Linked DNA regions of Homo sapiens: region 1 is linked to region 2. A link means that fine-mapping ties the variant in region 2 to the expression of a gene that starts in the linked region. Tissue or cell type: whole blood. Region 2 holds a variant in brackets; the other region holds the start of a gene. All regions are shown on one strand. Distances are between the middles of the regions.

Region 1 (10,639 bases), 30 kb before region 2:
TGTGGTGCAGTTGACAGACTGCTGAACAGTAAGTCAGGAGACCCGGGTTTTAGTTCTGGGGCTGCCACTAATTAGCCGTATGACTTTGGGCAATGAGGCACTTACTTTGTACCTGTTTCCTCATCTGTAAAATTCAGAAAGTCTCTTCCAACCTCAAAATGCTATTATTGAGAAATTACCATACAATTATTATTAAGAAATTGCCATACAATGTCATAAATGCTAAAACAAAGGTATGCAGAGCTTTGAGAGCACAAAGGAGGTTCTCCGGGTGTGGGGTCATCTAGCTTTGCTTGGGAAAATTGGTAAAGAGTTGCAGAGGAGGCCACAGTTCAGTCTTGAAGGATCAACAAAACTTTCCAGGCAGAAAGAAGGAGGAAGGCATTTTAGGCAAAGGAAACTTTGTGAGAAGGCAGAGAAGTAATAGAGCCTCAAATTGGCAGAACAATGAGTAGATGCGTATAGTTTGGATGTACGTGTGTTGAAAGTTTGGGCTTTAAATGCACAGGGAGCACTAGGAGATAAGCCTGGAGAAGGCGAATGAGTTGGGGCCTGAAGTTTCTTATGTATGGTGCCAAAAAGTTTTGACTTTATCTTGTAGACAGTGGGAAGCCATGGATTGTTTTAGGTAAGAGAGTGACAGGCTGATTTCCCTTTCATAAAAATCACATTGGCAACATGGGAGGAAGACGGATTGGAAGGGAATGAGACATGTTTGGAAATGATAAAGGTCTGAATAAGCCAAGGGGATAGAGGTGGAAGGAAGATAATGTTGTTCCTTTTAAACCTATTACATTTAAGATACCCAAGGAATATCCAAGTTAAAATGTATGGTAGGAAGTTGAAAATTTGAGTCTTATGCTCACAAGATAGACCTGGATTTAGCAGCACTCATAAGTGAGTACTGACTGAAGCCACAGGAGTGAATGACATTGCTTTGGAAAAGCATGTGGAGTGGGGAGTAAGGGGGCCAAAGGCTGAATTCTGGGAAATAATAGTATTTGAAGTCAGGAGTAGAAAACACATTGGAAGGATGGCTGGGGTGCAAGGAGCTGAGGAGTGAAGGGAGGAAGAGAGATAGTAAAGAATCTATCCATTTTTTTTTTTTTTTTTTTTTTTTGAGATGGAGTTTCACTCTTGTTGCCCAGGCTGGCGTGCAATGGCACGAACTCGGCTCACCGCAACCTCCTCCTCCTGGGTTCAAGCGATTCTCCTGCCTCAGCCTCCCGAGTAGCTGGGATTACAAGCACCTGCCACCATGACCGGCTAATTTTGTATTTTCAGTAGAGACGGGGTTTCTCCATGTTGGTCAGGCTGGTCTCTAATTCTCGACCTCAGGTGATCCACCCGCCTCAGCCTCCCAAAGTGCTGGGATTACAGGTGTGAGCCACCAGGCCTGGCCTAAGAATCTACTCTTTTAAGAAGGTTGGATGAGAAAGAAATAAAAGCGAAGGCTAAAGCAAGAGGAGGCTGCTGAGTGGAGGAAGGTATTTCATTTTATTATGTCTGCTGGGCAAAGATCAGTGAAGAGGCCGAAGTTGGTTACAGGAGAGATTGTGAATAATGGATGGAGGTGGGAAAGGACAGGATATAACGCACACCTGCAGGGCCTAGTCCCAGCCAAGGGAGCTGGAGAGTGTCTATTCTTCCCAAGAAGGAGGAAGGAAATCAGAAAGTTTCATTCAGTGGTTCTCACATTAAAATCACTGAGGTATCTTAAAAAAAATGCCAATAGCTGGGTCACACCTCAGAAGTTTCTGGTTTAATTAGTCTGGGATGGTCCTGGGCATTGATGTGTTTTCAAAGCTTCCCAGGTGATTAAAATCTGCAGTCAAAGTTCACAACCACTGGTTTAATTGCAGGTAACATTTTAGATTAATGATAATGGGATTGGATTTGAGGAAACTCACACTTAATAAAGGTTGGATGAATAGGGAGTGGTCAAGGTTTCATAGATGAGGAAGGGAGAAAGAGAAGGAAGCTAGAAGGGAAGGCAGCTAATGCTAACTTATTGAATTTTATGTGCCAGAGATATAGAAATGAATGAGGCATGGTCCTTCTTCTTAGAGATCAGGATCTCACATGACAGACACTTCACCACAAGCCTATGACATAATACAGTTCTTGACCAGTTAAGTTTTTTTGTGTGTGAGCTACTTTTATTCTTTTTTTTTTTTTTTTTTAACTAAAAGTGAAGGGGGAAACCCCTCACACCCAGAACCCAGGTATTTCCCAATATAGACTGGGTCTGGAAATCCTTTTGTGAGCATTGAGAGTAGCCTTTCTGGGAAGGTGGGTGCTGGGGAAAGATCTGTAACTATTCCGGGAGATCAACTTGTACCCAGGCTCATCAGCAGGGCTGGAAGTAGATGGTGATTGTGGCCCTGCATGTGGGTACATTACTGCAGTCACCTGTACCTGGGAGGTGGCTAAAATTGCTAATTGCTTACATGGAAACACTTTGATGGCCATTCTGCTATAGTGTGAAGCTTCTATGAGTAAGGTACCAAGGATTCCCTTTCTCTGAGCAGCATTGTAAAAAGGCCCTACTTTTCATCAGAGCAGAAAACCTAACTTTTGCTACTGTGGTCTGGGCCTGACCTCCAGGGACAGCTTCATCCACACAGGAAGTAGGTAGGTGCTTCTCTATAGTCTGGACCTTCCCTCAGAGAGAGTCTACTGTCACTTCTTGAGTTCCTTGAATCTTCCCCAGGAGGGTCCAACTCCCAGGGCTCCTGGGAAGCCTCTGATCTGACCCCACCAGCCCCACCTCCACCTAGTGAGCTGGTGAGGTGTTGAAAGGGCTTTAATGGAGGGCCCTGGCTTTTAGCTAGGGGCCTCCTTCCCCGAGGAAGAGTACTGAAAGAAGTGTCCTAGAGAAGTGTTCTCTCCTAAGAGAAGTATCCTAGGCACAGAACAGAGAGGGGAAACTCGACTGGGAATTGACTGTGGCACTATGAGTATATGGAGGGTGTTCCTTCTGTTACCTCATTAGACCCTTTTTATATAAGCAGAAATTGAGGCTTGAAGAAATTAAGAAATTCGACTATGTCCTCAAGGACAGGAGCTGTACAAAATCCAATCTGTTCCATTCTATTGTCCCTCAGGCTCTTGGCCTCCCTCTGTTATTGTAGGTTGGCCCCTTTAGGAAAATCTCAGTTGAATGTCATTTCAGTGCTCTCCTTCCTTCTAAAGAATTAAGCTAGGTCCCTTAGACCATAGGGCACATGGGCCTTCTAGCTGGGTCTCTGTTTGCTTACTCAGTGACTTGGGGACGTGTGAAATCCAGATGGGATTCTATCCTGAGGTGAAGGTAGAAGGTAATACAGAGAATTGCTGAATGGGACAGACCACACCAATAAAATTTTTTGTTGGACTCTGTAATCCAGTGTTTTCATTGCAGAGATGTAATTGAAAGCCCCCAACCTCACCGTCAGAGAAAGGAGGGACTAAGCTTATTCTAGCCTGATGCCTGATACCTGTTAATTGGGAAGCCTTGTCTGTTAACATCCTGACTTAGGTTTCAAGCTTTCAGTGGGGCCAGACTATGGAATTATCTGTAATTCTGGCATCAGAAGCCCTTTTTCCAGTTCTTTGGGCCATTTTGGGGTCTGTGAAACAGGCTAGCAGCATGTGAAGATAATTCACACTAAATCTGCCTGAGAGTCAAGACAGTGCCACGGCAGCCCCGACTCTGTGTCAAATTACACACTAGCTGCCTAGCACTGGGGTGTGCTTTGGGGCAGGGCTGGGGACACCCATGTCCTCCCTACTTCCCTTAACCCTTCCCCAGCTCTCCTGCCACTCCCTCATACACCTGGTCGTGGTCACTGCCAGGAGCCCCAGTGCGGCCCAGTGCCTGCACATGATAGGCACAAGGTGAATGAGTGCCTGGACGCATGCAGGGACTTGGGTACCTGAAATGATGATTCTGCATATTTCATGTAGTCTTGATGCTGAGTCACCTGCTTACCCATACTACTGGAGGAGGGGATGAGGAAAGACAGAGTTTGGGCAAAGGAGAAAGGAAGTGTGTTTTACTGTTCTGCATCTTTGAACAATGCAGCATAGTTGGTTCTGTCCTCATCTTTGGACAGGTTAGAATGAACCATCAAAAGGGGTGAGATTAGGTCTCAGGAAATAGTTTTCATCAGGGAGGAGCAAAAATTCCCAAACAAGTGAGGAACAGAGGCTGGGAGTCTCTTTCTCTGGGATTCCTTAATCACAGGGTTGTTCAAGCAGGTGCCAGGATTGGAAACTGAAGGAGGCTGAGATATTGAAAAGGCCTTGGCCTGCTTAGGGAGAAGTATGTGAAGATGCTTTTGAAATGATACTACTCTAAGTGGCGGGTTGCACGGCAATAACATTAATGATAATTGAATACTGCTTTCACTTACTCCAAGGGGAACATGGACTTCCCACAGCCCAGGCTTTTACGGTGTGGGTTCACTCTTGTAGGGTCACATGTAAAAGAACCCTAACTGGTTTCTTGGCATACTGGGAGGCACAAATGCCCCAAACGTGTAGGATATTTTGTGAGATCCTACAATCCCTGTGTGGCACCTTCAACTCTAAAGTATCTGAAACTCCTGGGATGGACAATCTGCCTGCTTGGGGTTGGGGACCCAACTGGCCAAGGCATTTTTCCTCTTGGAGGTTTCCTGGGAGAAGGCCCCCTCTCCTCTGCCATTCAAACTCCCAGGCGCCCGCGTCTTTTCCTCCTCCCCTTCTTCCCTAAGGCAGGGTTCCCTTTGTAATTAATCCCAACACTCAAACCAGAGGGGAGGAAAAATGTGTTAATGAGGGAGCGTCCCAGACTGACTGGGGCGGTCGCTGCTCGCAGCTAGAACTCCAAGTAATTAAATTATTTTTGGAAGGAGGGGATATGGTGGTGATGGTGTCAGGGAAATCCCCGTATGCATGGGAAGAGGCGTGCGCCTCTCGCCACTAATTAAAATCAGGGATGACCCTCCCTTCTCGGACCCCTAGGGGGAAAAAAAAAATCAATCTTCCCACGTCCCAGATTCCATTGGATTTTGTGTAGTCGGGTCCGTGGCCCTAAAGAGAATATGGCCAGCCCCAGGGATCTGGGGGCTCCTTCTCCGACAGGAGGGGTCCAGGAAGACAGCCCCAGGAGGGACTGCGGGCTGGGCCAAGTCCAAGAATCGAGGCATTCCCCTGCCCACCGTTCGGGACCCGAGTGTCAGCCCCACCGCGGATTCCCAGGATCGGGGAGGGCCGCTGGGCATCTGAAGGCGCAGGGCTGGGGGAGCGGCGACTCCGGGAAGAGCGGGGCCGCAGACAATGGACGCGGCGGTAGGAGGGGCGGCGGCTGTGGGAACAGCCGGGAGGCGGCACCCGGGAGCTCGCGCTCCCCCGCCCCCTGCACCCCCCACCCTCATCCCCTCCCCCTCCGCCCCCTCCCCCCTGCGCCGCCGGCTCCCGATCTGATTCCTGATCCTTGATTCCTTGATCCTTGGTCCCGCCATGGGAGCCTGAGCGCCCCCTATTCCCCCCTGGCCCCCAGCCCCCGGGGCCTTGAGGGGGAAGAGGCAGCGGTCTGGGACGGAGCAGGGGGTGACCAGACTCAAGAACCCCCCCCTCAACATCCCCCATCGCGCGCGCTGCCTGTCCAGGAGCGCCGAGTTCGGAGCGACCCGGAGCGCTGCGGATACAAAGGCGACGGGCCGAGCGGGGCGCCCGCGGAGCCCACCCGGCAGTTCGCAGCGGCGGGTGAGTGCCGGGCCGCGGGGGCGCGGGCAAAGTTTGAAAAAAAAAGAAGAAAGAAAGAGAGAGAAAAAAAGAAATGGAAAAGGAGGAAAATCATGCAAGGGGCCAGGGGGTGCCCGACCCCAGAGCGAGCGGGGTGGCTTATGGGGGAAGGGGGGCTGGACTCCGGGCAACCCCCTTCCGGTCCGCTTCCCCACTGCACAGCGGAGTACCCCCCCCAACTTTGGGGAGGGGAAGGGGCTCGTGGGGAGGGGGCGGAGCCCAGGCCTGGAGAGCCGGGGACTTTCCTGGGCCCGGGCGGGGGCCTTAATGATCCCAGGGGAGCCGGTTGAAGCCGGAGACGGGGAGCTTGTGTTGGAGGTGGGGGGAGAGGCGTGGAAGGATCGGAGTCTGGAGGTATTGGAAGCCAAGGGTGTTTTGGGGTGCATACACCCCTCAGGAGCGTGGGGAGGGACGGAGGCAGGTATGCGTTAAGGGTGTAGAGTGGAGTCAGGGGGGCGGGTTGGGCAGAGTAGATAGGGTGTATGTACAGACCGAGGATGGGGCTGGAGGCGGTAGACTGTGTATAGGGGCCGAGGGGACAGGCGCTGGCATCCCTCTCCCCACTCATATTTACCCATCTGGGGGACTGTGGGCTCTGCGTTAGTGAGTTTTGAAGGGTTGGTGGAGGATCCGTGTGCATGATTCTTTGTTTTGGTGTGTGTGCACGCCTTGACGTGCTGCATGTTCCTGCAGGTGGGCCCCTGGTTTGGATGTGTAGGTGTTTTTCTGTGCTTGAGTGTGTGTGCACCCAGGGAGCGGCTGACCATGCATCTGCTGTGTGTTTGGATATGTGTTTATATGTATACTTAGGGGAGGGCGTGTATGTCTATGTGTGTGTACTGGGAGAGGGGTTCACGGGAAAGAGGTGTGTAGGTACTGAGGAAGGTGGGTGTGTAAGAGCAGAATGGAGTGTATGTGGATAGGTGTGTGTGCACCTGTGTACTGGGAAGGGGTGTGAATCTGTGTTCTCTTGTGTGTAACCTGTGTTGATGGGTATCAATGTGTGTGCCTGCCTTAGCTGGTATGTATGTTTCTGAGTGTGTGTCGGGGGTACCTCTAGACTCTGCAGGCAGATTTTCCTGGCAAAAATCCCGAAAAGAAGGCTGTCTGCAGGATTTTGAGACTTCGTGGATGGCCTCGCCTGGGTTTAGGGGTAGTACCTTAAGTATCTGAGACCTATGGGTGGGAGGGAATGAGTTGTCTTATGAAGTGCCTGTTTTTGGGGGATGGGTTTTTCTGGAAGAGGGCGTGTGTTGTGGGGAATAGGGAACAAGGGGTCTGGTTGTAGTCCTAGAGGAATTTGGAAGATTGGCGGGGTCAGGGAGAAGAATAAGAGGAACTTCCTCCCCCATCGTCATAGGCTGGGTTCCAGCGCTTGGAGAAGCTACACTCTTGGATTCCCAGCCTTAGGTAAAAGCTTCAGGCCACAGTTCTCTTGGAAAGCCGTCTCAGAGTTTGCTGCTTCATAGCCTTCTAACTCTGCCCTGACTCTAAGATCCTAAAGTTCCTGAGGAGTCTTGAGATTTTGGTGTGGGATGGAAACAAGAGGAGGAAGCATGTCTGGAGGGTTGAGACCTGGTGGGGAACAGCTTGGGTTCCCTGCCCATGGGGTTGAGAAGGTGGCATAGGGTGTTTCTTCAGCAGCTTTTGCAAGTGAGTCTGTGTGGTTTATCAGACCAAAAAGTTTCCCTTTTCCCTGGTGTCAAGCATGATTGAGATGGAGCTGTGGGTGTGGGGCCAGGGCTGAGTGTCTGTGTGTCGGGAAAGGGCCAGGTACCCATTGCAGGCTATACTGCTATACTCATCATCATGATAGTGTGGTGGGAAGTCAGTGACTATCCAGGAAGTGAATGTCTCTTTCCACCAAGAAGCCACAGCTCCCTTCTCTCCCTGTCCTCTCTCATCCTTTCTCTTTTGGGGTATAGGAAAGGGGTTGCTCACCTCCTTCTTTAGGATACTAGCCTTCCCCCATTGCACACTCTTTTTGCTGCCAGTGGCTGGGTTGAGGCACCCAGTTTTAAGAGCTGAGGTGAGATTGTACATACCCATTATGGTCTCTGGGCAATTGCAATTGGAATGTTAGAGTCTCTAATGGGCATGTGCAATTGGAATGTTCCCTCTTTAGTCCTCAGGGCTCCCTACCCTCCCTAAGGCCTGGAGATAAGAGTAGTAGGGGTTAGAAAATGTTTGAACGAGGAACGGGGAACGGGGCAGAGTAGGAAAAGACCTTTAAAAGACCTTTTTTTTTTTTTAATGGATCATTCCCCCAAACCCAACACCTGTCTGATAGTTAGGGCTCCCAGGGCTAGTAAGGCACTTGCATCTAAGATGGTGTGCCCTGGCCCTCTGGGGTCCCTTGTTTGCTCTGTATACGCTGATCACATGCATGATATATTATGCTGGTGGGGGCTCTCTTCCAAAGAGGAGGAATTGTGGTCAGATAATAGGAAATGCCATTTCTGAAAGTACTTCCAGATTGGGAGTCAGTGGCCACGTTGGCCCCTCCTCACCCATTGTCTTGCTCCTGACTTCTATTTCCTCTAATTCTTCCGGGGCAGGCCTCTCTGGTGTGTTTGCCTCTCCTCCTGATCCTTTTAGATCTGAGGAAATATCCCCCCTTCCCTGGCCCTAGAGCAGGACAGTTTTTTATCTGCTCATCTGGTTTCCAGGTCCTTCCAGTTAATGGGGAGGGAACTTGACTAACAGAAGCTTTGGCAGGGAAAAGGAAGAGATCTGATCCCCTCTGAGTTTTAGGGAACTCCAGTCTTCTCCTTCCCTCAAGTGTTCATCACATTGTGAGGCCAGAGAAAGGAGTCAGAGTTGGTTGGAATTAGTACTTAACAGTGGTGTGATCTGGGCAAGTAATAAACCCCATTCCCCAGCCTCTTAGGTGTCTTAAGGCACATCCTCCAAGCCTAGACTGAGCCCTTCCACAAGGAATCCCTGGTCCCCCACCAAGTGGCTTTCTTCCCTGGTTTGCTTTTAAATTCTGGCTTTGCCACTGTCTAATTCCGTGACATCAGACAAAACTGGTAACTTTTTGAAGCCTCACCTGTAAAATGGAATTAATAATAGGCCCTACTTCTTGGGGTTATGAGGATTAAATGAAATAATAGAGAAAGCACGTTGCACAGTTCCTGGCACATAGTAAATGTTAGCTGGATGGTTCGGATTCTGAGGGATAATCATCATTAAGGGAGAGAGGTCGGAGTCGGGATAGGAGAACTAGGCTTTGGTTCTGATCTTCCTTTGGCCGACCACATTAGGCACTCTCTCCTATCTGCCAGGCACAGTGTGAAGCACAGGGGATGGAGGGGCAAATAAGATGTTTTCCCAGGGGAGACATGTGAAAACATGTTGATTCACTGCAGCCCAGTGAGTGCTGTGTGGAGGTGTGTTCAGGAGGCCACTGGAGCATAGAGGAAGAGTGCTTGGCCCTGGGGTGAGGTGCCAGGGAAGGTTCCTGCAGGAGATGCCCTGTTAGCTGGATTTTAAAAAAATTAAGGTGAAATTCACATAATAGGAAATAAACCATTTTAAAGTGAACAGTGGCATTTAGTACATTCACAGTGCTGTGCAACAACCACCTCTGTCTAGTCCCCAAACATTTGCACCATCCCGAAACAAAACCCATACCCATTACACAATTGTCGCCATTTCCCCTTACCCCAGCCCCTGGCAACCACCAATTTGCATCCTGTCTCTATGGATGTACCTATTCTGGATATTTCATACAAATGGAATGATAGAATGCATGACCTTTTGAATCTGGCTTCCTTCGCTTAACATAATGTTTTCCAGGTTAATCCACACGGTAGCATGTAGCATGTATTAGTACTTCATTCCCTTTTATAGCTGAATATTATTCCCTTGTGTGGACAGACTTTACCTGGTTAAAGGATGAGTTAGGCCAACAGGAAGGGTCTTAGGATGGCACTCCTGGTGGAGGCTGAGCGTGAGCAAGAAGGCACACAGGGTATTTGGTAGTCCTGTACCTTGCAGTATGAAGTGGGGATTTGGCCTCAGTTTCTCTGTCTATAAAACAAAGTTAATCATCCCTTTCCTGCTTGTGCTATGGGCTTGGTAGAGTTGGAGGTATTAGGGGAGAAGAGAGGCTAGGGTATTATTGCCTCTTCTCAGGGTCTGGGCTGGGGATGGGACTTTTAAAACTTGCTCTTTCCTCCTCTTTCCTGGGCAGCTCACTCCTGTATGCATCAACCCTCATCCTTGTGGGGAGCCATCTCCCTGTTCACTTGACATCAGCTTCCCCTCTCTCTGAATTGACCTGAAATTTTCCCTTTTACCTTCCACAGGTGGGTAACCCTGTGCATGATGAGATTTTGGCAGCAGAGGTGAAGGAAAGGCCTGGGACTAAGTCCTACTCACATTCTACCCTACGGCGGCCCTCCCCTTCTTTATCCTGTCTCTTGGTGATGTGGCTTGGGCAGCCCTCTCTCACCTTCTCTGTTGTAGTCTGGATAGAACTGTGGTGGGCCAGGGAGAATGTTTGCATTCCTTGTCTCTACCCTGCTTGGTACAGAGTAGGAGGCAGAGGCCCTTTATGGTGGGGCCCTTTGGAAATGAGGTTTTGCTGTGCTTTGTCGGATGCCCCTGGCAAGATTGGTAATTATAGACATAACAGCTGGGAACTGGTTTGAGAGAAGCAGGCTTGGAATCAGCAGACCTGAGGATATCCTGGTAATCAGGGTGGGGCAGGGAGAGGGGAGAGTGGGATGAAGCTGGGGGCTGGGTAGGGTGGGAGGCTTGGGGCCTCCTTCCCCTGCCGCTCCACACACAGCTGGGCTTAGAGCCTAGAGGAGAGTGGGAGGTGATTGGAACCCAGGTCTGCTTTACTGTAAGTGAGGAA
Region 2 (10,639 bases):
TCCTTATTTTACCCCATGTGAACCTGGAGAGACCATCCTGCTGTCAACAGTACCTGGGAAGGACTCCCACCTCACCAACAACTTTTGTATTACTCTAGGCCCTGCAGGAATCAGTGCCTCTCTCCCTCTTCTTTCCCTAGTCTTTTCCCAGATTACAGTCTCTCCTGAAAGGGCACAGGGCCCTGCTGATTGTACTTTCCCCTCCTGAGCCCCGACTCACAAATCCAAGTTCTTAAAACATTTCTCTTCAGTGGCCCAACAGGGTTTCTCTGGGGCACATGGACATGACTCCAGAGAGCCACAGTGCCAAACTCCTCCAGGGCAGCAACTGGCCCTCCTGTCCCTCACCCCAGCCACAACAAACCCTGGGTTCTAGGGCAGGGATACTCCTGCCACACAGCCCGAGTTAGAAATCTCCTTGCTAGGAGCATTTGCTTCCACATATATTTAGAGCAAAGAAGGATCCCATCCTTTTCCCAGAAATCTCCACCTAATGTTTTTGGTTTGTATGGTCACGTGACCATAGGCAACCACGTGGAAACCCTCTGTGACCACTTTTCCAGGGACTTAGGGGAAGGTACCTTTCTTCCAATGTGTCTTCCTAGGCAGCCCCTGAGGAGGAGGGCTGAATAGATCCCTGAGGTTTTGGAGAGACCCCCATCACTGACTCCTGCTCCCTAACCCTACCCTCACTTTCGTCCCCGCTCTTCCCAGTGAAGGATGGTATGTAGACTCCTGTACAGACATAGTGGCTTGCAGACCCTGACCCAGCCCCTGTGGTCTTAGACAAATGTTTTTATTTTTGTCACCAGCCACCCCTGTCCTGCCGCCTTCTCTCGACTCCAGAGACCTGTTGCCTCATCTCTTTTGGGGAAGAGCCGGCAGCTCCTCCTCATCCCCTGCCTTAAGTCCAGTTCTTTGCCTCAGGGGTCTCGTTTCCTTGGCCTTCCAGGGTCCCCACCCCTTTTCTCCCTGCCTGATTCTCTGAGCTCTGGGCTCCGTCTGTATTGGGTTGAGGGGCAAGGATTACTGCCTTTTGTAGGTACTTCACCCCTCACCCCATTTTAGCTTCCATAGTCTTTGCACCAAATCCAAATTCTTGATAATTTAGATCTCATTTTGAGCAAAATTTGCTGGCCCTCTAATAAATATTTTCAATATAAATCTGAGCCTTTGACTCAGACATTTTTGCCAAGGAGAGTAGAATTAGGAAGTACCCATATACATCCAGCCAGGATCCACATGGAGGACCTTTCTGATGGCTGCAATGACTAGGCCATTCCTCTGAGTAACTCACAGTGTCCTTTTGTAGGCCCTTCTTTTCCCTGAAAGACTGGTTGGTACTTACCTTGCAGAGCACATCCTGGGATAAGATCCCCAGTGTCTCCCCTGGGAGGCTCCCCCTCTGTGTAGCACCAGCCCTGGGAATGATGGAGCCTAGTGATCGGGGTTTCTCCTGCTGTCCTTTCTGCAAAAGTTCACTTGTTTACCCACCGCATGCTAGAGAGGAGCTCATTGGCCAATGCTTACCTTGTCCCCAAAGGGGTGGGTTGTGGAGCTCACTTAGGCAGGGCCTCTGGCTGGGGCCAGGGTTATGAGATAGGCCTGTATGAAATATGTCCTGTTCTGGGGGTCTGTCTCTTTTCTTCTCTTCAAAAACTTTGTGTCAGAGAGTCCCTTCTGAGTCACATAAATACCTCACTATCCTGGAAAACAGGGCCTGGATGGTGACTGGGGTCATTGCCTTTGTGGACAGGATGGAGTGTGGTGTGGTCTGAGGAGCAGGTTGGGGTGGGGGAGAGGGAAAGGATTTGGGATCTTAGTTGCTGCCCTAGGTTAGGGGCTGGGGAGTGTTTATTTTAAGATCCTGCCATGTTTTTAATCACTGTGATTTTTTTTTCATTCCCCTTTCCTAAAAAAAATTTTTTGCCTCCAACTCTCTAAGCACTAAGGGCTGTGCCTGAGAATGGTAGCATTTTGGTCTTTTGCTTCAGAACTGTGGTATCTTTGTCTTTTTTCATTATTATTATTATTATTATTATTATTATTACTATTGTTTTTTAAAATGTCAGGATGAATTGTCAGACATATGGCCATGTGTTTGTCCTCTGCTTCTCCCCTGTGGGAAGTTGTCTCCATGCTGTGAACTGCTGTGGGGTGTGCAGCTGACTCAGTCCCTCTGAGCAGTTTCCCCACTGTGTCTGTCCCATCATGCGCTGGATCTGCTCATTCTCCTGCTGTGGGGGTATGCCCACCTCTTACCCCCTTGACACCATAGGGCTGCTGTGGCTGGGCCTCACCAGCACTGTCTTTTGTGTGACTCATGGCATCCTCGTTCATCCCCACCGTGCCTAGCAGGCCTTCCTTTTCACCACCTCGGAACGCTTGCCTTTCCTCCCTCCACAACAGGACGCTGTGCCTCAGTCCTTCACCTACCTCGCCACTCTGCCACTGTCCCCATTGGTCCTTTCTCCTAAACTGGTCTTTGTGCTCTCTTTGTTTTTTCTTATTTCCCTCTTGTCTCTCATTTTTTCTTCCCATTCCCCTCCCATTTCAGCCCTTAACTTTTCTCTTTCCCATCTCCACTCAGTATTCCAATGGCAAACCCTGATGATGTAACACCTGCGATGAGACATCGGACTCTCCGGAACTTTCTCATCTGACACGTCTTTTTCCCAGGGTTCGTACTTCTCCTCCATTGGTCCCAGGCTAACTCCCCTGTTCCTCTGTGGTGTCTGTCAGTCCGTCTGTCTTCTCTTTCCTCTGCCCTTCCCACAGGGCAGTATCTGCTGATGGATTCAGTCCTGGTGTGTGATTGTTGTGATTTGTTCTTCCGTGCGCAAAAGGAAGAGGGCTTTTTGAGTCCCTTCCAAGTGAGATTGTAAATGTAGAATTTTCCACTGTTGGATCTAGATTTTTTTTCCTTTTTTTTGGGGGGGTGGGGTTACAGAGCTGAGACCTTGTGCATGCATGTAGAAAATTGTAAAATGTAAATTTTTTTTAATATATAAAAAGCTTGTTTCTACAGTTTGCAGTGGATCTAAACATTACGGCAATTTTAGGATTTTTTTCTTAAACATAGGAACTAAAACTGTACAAATTTTTTTTATATAAAATAAAGACATTTGACTTTTGTGGGGGCATTCTGTTGCTTTTCTTTCTTTACAGGAATGGGAGCAAATGAGGGCCAGGGAATAATGAATATATTCCTTGTTAGGGAGGGAATGGGCAGGA[G/C]GGGGCAGTGTGAGCTCATCATTGCTCTGCAGGCCTTCAGGGTGTGTTGGAGAGAAATGGGAAAATGAAAAAGGAAATTGCTTATTCTGAATCCTGATTCTAAAGAGAGAGAAACAACAATGTGAGGGCTTAACCACTTCCTGGTGTAGTTGTCAGGATAGAGAAAGAAAGATTACTTCCTGGGTCCACCCTCCTGAGCAAGCTTGTGTCTGTATGGCCTCTAGGGCAGGAGTGGGTTTCTAAAACGTATTTCTAAAACATAAAGTGCCATAGGAATTTCAGGGGATAGTTGAGATTTCAGTCAGTGGTGACAGCCCATCACAATTCATTGAGACAAGTTTCTGTAGTATATATATTAGTTCTAAATATGTAGAGAGTTCAGTGCTCTGTTGTCACTGTAATGCATGTAATCAGGTACTAAAATCACCCTCAAGAGATTGGGTCCCTTCTCCCAGTCTTACCTGGGCCTGACCTCTGTGACTTTGGGCAAGATGCTTAGCATGTAAACAGCCTGCTAAGGTTAAAAACAAGCATTTCTGTATGGAGGTGGCCTATTCACTAGATTTCCTCCTCCTCTCCCCTGCCTCATACTCTGCCAGGCTCTGGGGATGCAAAGGCAAGAGAGGCTCCATCCTGGAGGATGACCCAGTTTACAGGGGTGACAGGCTGGGTGACCCTAGTGCAAGGCTTCATGGCGTGTTCTCAGGCAGAGTGTAGACAAACCCTGGCTGGATTCCAAGGAGCTCGGGGAGTTTCCTTCAAGAAATCTAGGAAGTTTGTTTAAGACTCAAGATGGGGGAACACACTCACCTTGAGATTACATTTTGTTCATCTAAGTATTCCTAGAATTGAAACCAGTTCCTCGCATATAGTTGGTCCTCAATAAAAAATTGTTGCATGAATAATGAACTGAACAACTAACAATACAATAGGGGCTCATGAAAGGGATCATATACTTGCTTCTCCCTTTAAAATTGCACTCCAGTCTTTCTCATGTGAAAACAAACAAAAATACTTCCCTTGAAATTGCATCCCCATTCTCACGGCTCTGTTCTTTCTGTAACTAGGTTTGTAGAATAGTTTCACTTGCTGTTTCCAGTTCATTTCAGAGTCAACTTGTGACTTACATTGTGACCAAATTTCTACCTTAGCATGCCTCTGAAATTATTCTTGTTCTCAACAGCCAAGTATAGTAAACACCTTTTAAGTTTATTCTTTATTTAGTGCCTATGATGTTCCCAGCCTGATACTAAAGTACTTTCTCTGGTAAAGATACTGGATATGGTCCTGCCCTCACTGAGCTAACCTTGGTGGACCCTTGAGAAGGCTAGTTAACCTCAGGGACCTCCTCTTGTAATGCTGGCCCCAGGAATTCATAGATTTAAAGCCAGACCTCAATATTTGATTGATAAGATCATATTTTCTCTAGAGGTTTGCTGCAAGCAAAAGTGATAATCCTGACCATTTGTCAGGCAGCAAAGGGTATTTGTAACTTTTGTTTGAAAGGATGTGTTTTCCACAGAAGTTCTTCACATAGCACTGAAGTTAGGGACCCAGCTTGGTGGATTGTCAGGGTCATGCCTGGGACTTCATGACATTATATGTGATTATATGTGATTACATATGCTGCCCATGTGTGATTTTTGTTTTTTAGCCTTTGCCTTTGAAATACAGCCGAGAGGGGGAACTGGGGGCTGGGGCTCTGGCTGAGGAGACATAAAGATCTTTAGACCAAGGTCTCAGTGATTTGTTATTAGTTTTTTATTTTTTAATTTTAATTTTTTTGTTACTATTTTTTTTTGTTTGTTTGGGATAGTTTAATGGCTTCTACAGACTGAAAGTCAGCTTGCTTAAGGTAACCCTTGGCTTTTTTGTTACTTTAAGCATATGATAGTAATGCTCTTCCAATTGCCAGGAAGGCTGGGGTAGGGGAAAGTCAGCCTTTGGAAAAGCACTGCAGCATTAGTGTACACATGGTCATGGAAGATGCTAGAGAGATAATAAAGGACCACCTACATAGTAAATCTTGGAGAATAGTCATCCCTGTCTAGCTCCCCAGTTTCTTTTCAGGCTGAGAATGGGGTCCATTTCTCTTGGTACAAACGGCAGGGCAGACATGACATCCTACCTGCTCATAACAGTGAATGCCACATTTGAGTATGTAGAATAGTGGGAGAAGGTACTGGTTTAGAGTTGGGAAACCTGGCCAAGGCATTGGCTTCTCTCATTTCATCTCAGCAAGTTTTGGGGGCACACTTACTGTGTGGTAGGCATTGTGATACAAAGATAAATAAAACATTGGCCCCCTCCCCTTGGAGCTCATGGGACTTTTGCTAGATAAGTTGGGAAATTTTATTTTGTCATATGTTGTAGGCAACCCGAGGAAGCACACTATTTTCCTGGAGGTGGTAAATACCATCTGTAAAAGGCAGACTGAAGCCAACAGTGTGTGAGGGTATTGAGCCTGATATGTAAACTATTTTGATGTCACTTGTCAAAAATAGCCATCTGTACTCTGATATCCTGTAAGGGGAATGACTTTGGTTATAAGGTTATAAAAATTAGGAGTATGGCTGGGCGCAGTGGCTCACGCTTATAATCTCAGCACTTTGGGAGGCCGAGGCGGGTGGATCACCTGAGGTCAGGAGTTCGCGACTAGCCTGGCCAAGATGGTAAAACCACGTCTCTACTAATAATACAAAAATTAGCTGGGCGTGGTGGCACATGCCTGTAATCTCAGCTACTTGGGAGGCTGAGGCAGGAGAATCACTTGAACCCGGGAGGCAGAGGTTGTGGTGAGCCGAGATTGGGCCACTGCACTCCAGCCTGGGTGATAAGAGTGAAACTCTGTCTCAAAAAAAAAGAAAAGAAAGAAAAGAAAAAAGAAAAAAAAAATTAGGAGTATGAGATCTTCGGTTGTGTATTGTCCCTTCTTGCTTTTGGGCACAATTAGGTCATGCTGCTGCTTCACTTAGGGTAAGTATGTGGTTAAAAGTATGTGGTTTTAGGATTTTTTAGGGCAGTGGAACTACTGTGTATGTGCTATAAATGTGGATACTTGGCATTATACATTTTTCCAAACCCATAGGATATACAGTACCAGTAGTGAAGCCTAATGTAAATTATAAGCTTTGAGTGATTAATTGGAACAAATGTACCACTCTGGTGGGGGATGTAGATAATGGGAGAGTCCATGCAAGTGTGGGGGCAGGGCATGTATAAAAAATCCCTGTACCTTCCACTCAATTTTCACATGAAACTAAAACTACTCTAAAAAGGCTATTTACATTTGAGATCAGGAGTTCGAGACCAGCCTGGCCCACATGGTGAAACCCTCCCCCGCTGTCTCTACTATAAATACAAAAATTATTTTGGTGGAATGCGCCTGTAATTCCAGCAACTCGGGAGGTCAAGGCATGAGAATCGTTTGAACCCGGGAGGTGGAGGCTGCAGTGAGCTGAGATTGTGCCACTGCACTCCAGCCCGGGCAACAGAGCAAGACTCCATCTCAAAAATAAATAAATAAATTACAAACAAACTCTATTTAAAAAAACCTGACTAAGAAGACATCAAGCACAACTTTACCTAATTCTAGACACCGCTCTAGTAATAAAAGTGATAGTATTATAGGTACTTGTGATTCAGGGGAAAAAAATGCAGGTGTGTGCTGTTTCCCCTGAATCCCTTAACAGTGTCACTATGGAGCTTGGAAATCTGTTAAAGACCACTGAAGAGGAAGCTGAAGCTCTGTTGGTCCATCAATAATACTGTGACAACCAAAAATTTGCATGAGGGGACTTAAATGAGTCAGGAAACATGTGATTTAACTTAGTGAAGATTTTCACTCCTTTCAAGTTCCTGTTAATGTTAGTTCTCTTTGACATAAGAATGTGTGATTTTAGGGTGGGGTTGGCTGGGATGGTTTTTACTGTAATAAAGAACACTTGTTGAAGGACTTCTTGTCTTCTGTCAGTTTACTTATATCTTAACACAGTACCTCTGGCCTCAAAGATGGAATCCAGTTGAAGTGAAAGCAGATCCAAACTGTATCATCAGGGAAAGCTGAGCTTGTAGAATTCATTTTCAGTGACTGGTACGAGATTGTGTACTTCTGGTTTGGAGCATATTGAAGAATTCGACCCTGGGCAACCTTTTTCCTGGAATTGAAATGTTCATCGGGTTTTTACTCTGTCTTGAAATAGGTCCCCAAAATAGAGTTTTTCAAACTTTAATGGTGCGTATAGCAAGTGTACAAATCACTTGGGGATTATGTGAAATACAGACCCTGATTCAACAGGTCTGGGTAGGGTCTGAGTTTCTTCATTTCAAACAGGTGCCCAGGTGTCTTAGTCAGCTCAGGCTGCTGTAACAAAATACCATAGACTGACTGGGGGTCTTAAAATCCAGAAATTTATTCCTCATAGTTCTTGAGGCTGGAAGTCCGAGATTGGGCTGGCAAGCATGGTTAGGATCTGATGAGGGATCTCTTCTTGGCTTATAGGATGCTGCTTTCTTGCTGTGCCCTCACATGGCAGAGAGAGAGAGAGAGAGAGAGAGAGAGAGAGAGAGTGAGAGAGCGAGGTTTCTTATGTCTCTTCTTATAAGGGCACTAATTCCATCACGAGGGCCCTAGTCTCATAACCTCATCTAAATCTAATTACCTCCCAAAGGCCGCATTTCCAAATAACATCAAATTGGGGGTTAGGCTTCAACATATGCATTCTGGGGCAACACAGTATAAAGCACCAGGTGCTGCTGCTGATGTTCTACAGACCTTATTTTGAGCAGCAAGGCCCTAAAAGAAGCTTAATATACCCCTGAAAATTTGAGGGTCCTAAACACGCCTTACTTAACTCTAAGATAATTGATGCAAGAGATCAAAATTGTTAAGAGGTCTAAATTTTATGAATGTAATAAATAGTTTGGTAAGGTCATTGTTGCTCATGCTATAAAATTGTGCCACCTGTATCAAATTGTGATTTTATGAGAATCTTAAATGATATGTTGTGAGATAGGCCTTACGTGTGGAGTTTATACAAAAGCAGTTCAGTATGCAACTTAACTGATCCATGAGACGTTAATAATGACACAAAAAAAGGGCCAAAATGAGATCTTATCACTAAAGGCCATAGAAATTGAAGGAGCAGTTTCCAATATAAATTATCTTTGGCTAGAAATTTTTTTGCCAACATGACTGTATTAGTCTATTCTCATGCTGCTATGAAGAAATACCCGAAACTGGTTTAATTGACTCAGTTTCTCATGGCTGGGGAGGCCTCAGGAAACTTGCAATTCTGGTGGAAGGGGAAGCAAACACATCCTTCTTCACTTTGTGGCAGGAGAGGGAATGAGAGCCAAAATGCTGCCAGTCTCTTTGCGTTGCAAGAGTGACATTTACTTCAGTTCTTAACAAGTTCCTCATCTCCATTTGAGACCACCTCAGCCTGGACTTCATTGTCCATATCACTATCAGCATTTTGGTCAAAGCCATTCAAAAAGTCTCTAGGAACTTCCAACCTTTCCCACATTTTCCTGTCTTCTGAGCCCTCCAAGTCTCTAGGAAGTTCCAAAGTTTCCTGTCTTCTTCTGAGCCCTCCAAACTGTTTTAACGTGTGCCTGTTACCCAGTTCCAAAGTCACTTCCACATAATTGGATATCCTTATAGCAGTACCCCACTCTCTGTTGTACCAATTTACTGTATTAGTCTGTTTTCATGCTGCTATGAAGATATACTCAAGACTGGATAATTTATAAAGAAAAGAGGTTTAATTGACTCACAGTTCCTCATGACTAGGGAAACCTCAGGAAACTTACAATCATGACAGAAGGCAAAACAGGCATGTCTTACATGGCGGCAGGTGAGAGAAGTGAGTGCCAACTGAAGGGGGCAGCCCCTTATCAAACCATCAGATCTTGTGAGAACTCACTATCATGAGAACAGCATGAGGGTAACCACCCCCACGATTCAATTATCTCCGTCTGGTCTCTCCCATGACACATGAGGATTACGGGAACAAAAATTTAAGATGAGATTTGGGTGGGGACTCAGCCAAACCATATCAATGACCAATAGAACAGAGGAAATTCATGAGTTTTACCATATTTAGATAGTTTCAGATAAGGTGACTTAATGTACTTCAATATTTGCATTAATTGCTATGGGTATAGAATGAAAGTGTGATCCTTGAATATCTGAGACATGTCTCAGTTAATTTAGAAACTTTATTTTTCCAAGGTTGAGGACACATGCCCATGACACAGCCTCAGGTCATGATGACCTGTGCCCAAGGTGGTCAGAATACAGTTTGATTTTATACATTTTAGGGAGAGATGAGACATTAGTCAATGTATGTAAGATGAACATTGGTTTGGTCTGGAAAAGGCAGGACAACTTGAAGCAACGGTGGGGCAACTCGAAGTGAGGAGGGGGGCTTCCAGGTCATAGGTAGATAAGAGACAAATGGTTGCATTCTGTTGAATTTTTGATTAGCCTCTCCGAAGGAGGCACTCAGATATGCATTTATCTCAGTGAGAAGAGGGGTGACTTTGAATAGAATGGGAGGCAGGTTTGCCTTAAGCAGTTCCTCGCTTGACTTTTCCATTTAGGTTAGTGATTTTGGGGCCCCAAGATTTATTTTCCTTTCACAAAAGTAACACCATATTTCAATAATTGTAGGTAGCATCATATATCAATAATTTAGAAATATGTTCTCAAGTTTCTTTGCCCAAGTGGTGGTCACTGTACAAACTTCAAGATCTTAACGACCTTGTAGTTAAATGTTGCTGGAAACTGTCTTATCTGTGTTTACTGTTTTTCACTCATTCTGTCATTTAACCAATATTTGTTGAGCACCTTCTATGTGCCAGGAGCTATGCTAGGTATTGGTGGCATGGCACTGAATAACATGGACATAGTCTTTGTTCTCAGATAGTAATCACTTAATTTCAAAGGTGATGAATGTAGTGATGAAGTATAGGGGACTATGGGATCTTACAGTAGGAAACTGACCAAGGTTGTCAGGAAAGGTTTCCTTGAAATAAAGGATGGGGCACAACATCTTTTTGACTGGGAAGAGCTTCCTCATTCTCTTCAATAACCAAACTCTATCCAAGAAATTGCTGTCTAAAAATTGAGTGTCAAAGTAATTGGACCTTGGAAGTTGTCAAAAGATTTCTTGAGAAGGCTAGCAAGGATGTATAGCAAGGGGAATGCTTGTACACTGTTGGTGGGAATGTCAATTAGTACAGCCACTATGGAGAACAGTATGGAGGTTCCTCAAATAACTAAAAACAGAACTACTATATGATCCAACAATCCCACTGCTGGGTGTACGCCCAAAGAAAGGAAATCAGTATTTCGAAGAGATGTCTGCACTCCCATGTTTATGGCAGTACTATTTACCAT

The links. PIP is the estimated chance that this variant, and not a neighbour inherited with it, causes the effect.
Region 1: it holds the start of VANGL2, and the variant in region 2 is fine-mapped to the expression of VANGL2 in whole blood (TOPMed, PIP above 0.99).

Annotation. Positions count from the first base shown.
Region 1 is chr1:160,395,137-160,405,775 of GRCh38, forward strand. It overlaps VANGL2 (VANGL planar cell polarity protein 2), which reads left to right and starts at 5,428. Exons shown (of 8, transcript NM_020335.3): 1 at 5,428-5,733. The region is part of intron 3 of LOC105371466 (a long non-coding RNA gene); the gene reads right to left.
Region 2 is chr1:160,425,536-160,436,174 of GRCh38, forward strand. It overlaps VANGL2 (VANGL planar cell polarity protein 2), which reads left to right. Exons shown (of 8, transcript NM_020335.3): 8 at 1-3,135. LOC105371467 (a long non-coding RNA gene) reads right to left here. Exons shown (of 3, transcript XR_922202.3): 3 at 7,330-7,391. Among named protein-coding and RNA genes, the nearest start is that of VANGL2, 30 kb to the left of the region's middle. RefSeq lists an enhancer at 4,333-4,562. The variant G/C (reference allele first, on the strand shown) is at 3,235.